Regions from separate parts of the Homo sapiens genome. Here region 1 is linked to region 2. The links come from fine-mapping of genetic effects on gene expression. A gene starts in region 2. The other region holds a variant in brackets. All regions are shown on one strand. Distances are from middle to middle.

Region 1 (2,821 bases), 53 kb after region 2:
ATATAATCTCCTGGTAGGCAGTTTCCTGAGCCTGTTGGAAAAGCGCAGTATTCGGGTGGGAGTGGCCCGATTTTCCAGGTGCTGTCTGTCACCCCTTTCCTTGACCAGGAAAGGGAACTCCCTGACCCCTTGCGCTTCCCGAGGGAGGCAATGCCTCGCCCTGCTTTGGCTGGTGCACAGTGTGCTGCATCCACTGTCCTGCACCCACTGTCTGGCACTCCCTAGTGAGATGAACCCGGTACCTCAGATGGAAATGCAGAAATCACCTGTCTTCTGAGTCGCTTACGCTGGGAGCTGTAGACCGGAGCTGTTCCTATTCGACCATCTTGGCTCCTCCACCGTGAGTTTTACTTTAAATGGACCTAAAAGAACTCTGTTGATTCAAGCACTATGTTGTTGTTTTTCTTTGATGATAAAGAAAACTATGCAAACAGAATATGCCCGCCCTTGGACTTAAAGCAAAAAACTTGCCTTCTAACAGATCAGTTTGTGACAGCCTCTCAAGTAAGACTAAAACTTGGTTCTGCTTAACAGTAATTGGCAGATTCCTGGGATGTGTTTCCCAGCCATTCATTGTTAAAAGAAACAGACTGTCCTGCTCCATCCTGTTTCATTAGCCAATTAAGATGTCAACCTTTGGGTTGTCAAAATCATTAAACATATTTGGGTAATTATGAGAGGACAGAGAGCATGACTGGCATAGAAGAGAAACGATGGTTCAGAAATTGAACTTAGCTTTCTTCAGACATAACAAAACTTAAAATTAATTAAAATTTTTGTTATTGGTTTTACCATCTATAAAAATTTGGAATATATTTTTAAAAAGGTGATCCTTTTATTTCCCTGTTTCCTTTTTGTTCAAGATGAAAAACAAGCATAAAATGAAAGTGTCCCTGACAATTTCGAAATCTAAGAACAAACTGGAATTTTGTGTATACATGTGCAATATGCAATGCCTAGTTCTCTGTGGTGGGGGAATGGAGATATTTGCTGATTTTCTTCTTACCAGATGTGAGGATCTTGAAGGTGGGCCTGAAGGTGGGCTTGAAGATGGCAGAGCTCAGAGGCTTATGATGGACCACTGCTTTTTATGTTAATAAAATATCATTAATGTATTTTTCATATCGTACTTACTAATTTTAAAGTCATTTCTATTCTGTCATCACTGCTAGGATTATGAACAGTAGATTTGCATTTGGAACTGGAAAGGCCAATGGAATCCTGGAGTTGGAATAGTAATTTCATTTTAAACCACAGTCATTAGTTACCCACGTATTGTTTGAAGATGTCTGTCATATGATTATTTAAGGACATTTAAAAACATATCTGAATAACT[T/G]AAATGGAGTTATATGTGTCAGTATCAATAACTTTTAACTACTTTCTTTTCTAGACTAGCATATACCCATTATACATTAAAAATGTGAAATATTTAGGTTTCCTTATTAGAGTGGAGAGGTGAATACTAATTCTCAGATGTGTTTTGTGATAAGGTGGCACTCCTTCTTAAGCATTGCCATCAATCTTAAGCCGGGAAATTCACCTCTAGAAAGCGTCAAATCACTGGCTCCAAATCAAATTCTAGCAAGTATTCCCCATGTAATCAGCTGTCATCCTCAGTGACAAGGAGGAGACAGTGCTCTGCTTTCACTTTATTCCTACTTGAGAGCCCCAGCTTGAGAGTCTGGATAAGGCTCAAGGACGGAATGGGGAGTCTGTCTTCTATAAATAAAGAGAATAAAATTGCTGCTTTTTTCCTCTCCTTCCTCACCGCTACCTTGTCTGTCCCCCAGCGCATTCTTATTTCTCCCCAATGTCAATGAAGTTTGGTAGAAAGTTGTCTCTCATCTTAGTGTGCTATCTTACTTCGCTCAGCCTTATTTTCATCCTCTCTTCATTCATTGACTTATCCAGGAGCTTCATCTCTTTACAGAAAGGAGTGGGTACACGGGCAGTTCTCTTGGGAATTCTGATTCATTCACCATCTTGAACCACCTTTCTGTTGGGTTGTTGGATGTGACCATAGATGCTGGTCACATGCTTCTTAGCTCCCCATGTAATGAAACTTAACACAGGGCCAAGCAGATTTCCCAGACAAGGCTTTTATTTTGGGGCTTGTGCTCAAGGGCAAGGGAGACAGTGGAGGTGAGGTATGAGGATCCTCAAGCTGGCTCCCCAAAAAGCTAGTAGAGACTTTTTAATCAGACAAAGCATGGGGAATTGACACAGGGGTAAGGTATGCAGGCTGGGCTGGGAGAAGCATGTGGGGGTTAGGGTATGCAGGTCCATATGTCTGGTCCCGATGGTTATCTTGAGTAATGGGCCACCTGGTGGTCTGGCCAGCGGCAAAAAGGCTGCTTACAAATCATTCTTTCCCAAGGTTTGACATTCTGCACTTTGGTTTGATATTTAGGTTTCCTAAGGCCAGTTCCTGGAATTCTTTAAGTAAAAGGCATAGGTAAACATTATGAGAGCACAGGAGAGTGGCTATTTTCTTTATATGACTAAAGCCTTAGGGTTAGCATGTGTAACGTCAGCGAGGTGGTGATGTGGATTTTGTGATCAGCAGGAATGTATGAAAGAATGTTCCACCAGCGGGGGTGGTGGGGTGGGGAGCTGAAGCCAAGCCCTGACCTTACTCTGTCTCATGCCCTTTCTATACTTGGTATATTTGTATATTTGCTGTCTGTTTTTTTTTTTTTTTTTTGAAAGCGGCTACTCTCAATTCCCTAGATTGACTATGTTCTCTTTTTTTTTTGTTTTTTTTTTTTTGAGTCAGAGTCTTGCTGTGTCGCCCAGGCTGGAGTGCAGTGGCACGATTTCA
Region 2 (2,821 bases):
GCATGACAATTTATCACCGATCTGAAGCTTGGTAGTTTTTATTTTGAAATACTGTATTGCCACCTACCTCTGAATCTGCAGCTCTACCTCCTTCTGCAGCTGCCCTTCATTATTCCGTCCACAGCTGAACTCAGAACTGTGAGTGTTCTCCAAGCCGCAGCCCCCCATCTAATGACAGGTGGTGGAGGTGGAGCACTTTAGAAACCAGTCTCAACAAATTAAAAAAAAAAAAGGACTTCAAAAAAGGGAACCAAGTTGATTCTTAAAACAATCTGTGCCACATTAAAAATAATAACAATAAATAAACTTGGAAGTTCAAAGAGTAAAACTAAAACAGGGACTAAAGGAAATCATCTTTGTTTTTTGCAGCCAATGACTGTGCAGACCTGATGCTGTCTTGTTCTTGTACCAAATTCTCCTTGAAAATACCAGAGACCTCTCTCTGAATGGCCATAACATTATACCCTAAGGGAAATAATTTTCTCCAACATTTCTCATCTTTTGTAAACAGATGGCATATATATATTTAATATATATATTTATAGATATATTTATAGATATTTATATATATTTATAGATATATTTATATATATATTTAAAGAGAAAGAGAAATACCAACAGTCTGCCAACTGTGGAATTCTTATAGTCCGATAGTTTCTTTTTGGTTATTTTTTCACAACTAAATTAACTAGTGTTGCTGCCATAGATACATTTAAGAAAATCAGACACTTTGCTGCTTTTACATATATCTGTCTGAAACTCAGCAGGAATATTTCAGTTGCCTTAGAAAAATATCCAGTTAACAAACTTTGTGAAGTGAAAAGAAAACCTTATCAAAATCTCCAGCTTCAAGTACATTTAGTTGTTTTCTTTTTATTGTTGCTTACATGCTGTGATTGGAGCACAATATGTGGAAATTGCATAACCATTATTTCCACAAATCAAAGCTATTGAGACATGGGAAGGCCATGTGGAGCTGCTGCATGAAATGTTGGTTAAAAAAATTCCACTCTGCCTTTATATCTAAAGTCTTCCCTTCTTTCAGGTATCAATGGTTTCTTCAGTCGTAAGCATCACTAGGTTGTGTTTCGTTTGTTTAACTGCTTTTAAAATCAGAATTAGCCATAGGTCAAATAACATTTTTTGAAAAACATTTTCTCTATGTGTCTTATATTTTTCCTTAGTTCTACTTTGTTTTGTTATTTTTAATATTTTGGGGGTAATCTAGGCAAAGAGCTCTTAATTCTTAATGCATTAGAACCATCAAGAAACATTCAGTGCAATTTCCATGTCTCAGGGGAAAGTTTTGGTGTCCTCACCTCGATCCATTCCCAGGTTTATGGGGACTAGGGAGAATCCTTTCACTATTATTTTACATTTTAAAATATACCTAATCAAGTGCAGTGCAGTGCAGTGGTGTATGCCTGTGGTCCCAGCTGCTCGGGAAGCTCAGGAGAGAGCATCACTGGAACCCAGGAGTTTCAGTCCAGCCTGGGCAACACAGCAAGATCCCATCTCTAAAAAAAGAAAAGAAAGAAAAGAAAACAGTGGCCAGTCAGATGGCTATGTAGGTCAAAGACAGCCTGACTGAATCATATGAGAGGGAAGAAAAACACTTGTCATTCCTAGCTTTCTGTGTTCCTCTTTTGTTCCAGCAGAGCTTTGGTTGTACTACTCTAATACCCATACAACACTGCTTTCCTTAGAGCCACAGCTACTGCTGAGAACTCAAAAACTTCTTCCTTTCCGGTGAACACGTCTAGACTTGGGCTGGGGATGGGATGAAGATCTCTAACACCTTCCTGGAAATCAAGAAGTGCAAATAGGTAATTTTCCCTTTTTTTTTTTGAGATGGAGTCTCACTCTGTCGCCCAGGCTGGAGTGCAGTGGTGCAATCCGGCTCACTGCAATTCTCCCTGCTTCAGCCTCCTGAGTAGCTGGGATTACAGGTGCCCGCCACCACACCCAGCTATTTTTTTTAGTTTTAGTAGAGACGGGGTTTCACCGCATTGGGCAGGCTGGTCTCGAACCCCTCACCTCAGGTAGATCCGCCTGCCTCGTCCTCCCAAAGTGCTGAGATTACAGGTGTGAGCCACCGTGCCCAGCCTGGTAATTTTCTTAAGAGAGAAATAATGCTTTGTTTTGAGATGTTCTGCTGGGGTATTCTGGTAGCTCTTTCAGTGCTTAAACTCATTCCGAGTCTGCACAAATGGCATAATATTTAGCTGTGCTTTGACACTCTTCAGCACCTGGAATATAATGAGCATAAATATCTTTTTAGGTTTCTAGATCAAAGATTGTTTTCTTCTATAATGTTTCTCCTCAAAGAAGTGTTTCACTGTTCTGTAAAGTAAATTTCAGAGATTATAAGGCCAAAATAGCGATTATAGCAAAAGTCTATGATCAGTTACATTGTCTAATTTTGAATTACAGTGGCAGCTTTTCTTTTATCTTTAAATTTGGTGCCATTTCTTCCTATCATTTCCACCCCTGGGATTTTTCTGGTTAGAGATGTATATAATTGCCTTTCTGCCCACATTCCCTTCTAAAAGAATCTGTTCCCCTGCTGAACAGATGGGCCTAGTCATCTATGTTTATATCATATGACCCTACTCCCTGGTTATGATGATTGGACCAGGGTGGGGAGACCTACTCTGAGAGTCGATCCATAGGTTAGGCCAAGCCAACTAGATGATATTGTTTGAAAAAATTTCACTGAGACACAAAAGTCATAGTTAAGTGATGAGAATTGGAGTTGTCGGGTCACAGGTATTTAGTGTGAGACCTCTATGGCAAGCTTCAGCTACATGAACATTAAATT

Direction of the effects. Alleles are on the strand shown, and positions count from the first base shown. SD is a standard deviation of normalised expression in the study named.
In carriers of allele G in region 1, the expression in prefrontal cortex of the gene that starts at base 1,657 in region 2 tends to be higher than with T alone (large effect, 1.6 SD a copy in CommonMind).

The links. PIP is the estimated chance that this variant, and not a neighbour inherited with it, causes the effect.
Region 1: its variant is the best candidate, but not a certain one, in a credible set for the expression of LINC01827 in prefrontal cortex (CommonMind, PIP 0.53).

What each region holds. Positions count from the first base shown.
Region 1 is chr2:195,520,522-195,523,342 of GRCh38, reverse strand. No RefSeq gene overlaps it. Among named protein-coding and RNA genes, the nearest start is that of LINC01825, 11 kb to the left of the region's middle. RefSeq lists an enhancer at 1-394. The variant T/G (reference allele first, on the strand shown) is at 1,337.
Region 2 is chr2:195,573,329-195,576,149 of GRCh38, reverse strand. LINC01827 (long intergenic non-protein coding RNA 1827) reads left to right here and starts at 1,657. Exons shown (of 2, transcript NR_187191.1): 1 at 1,657-1,826.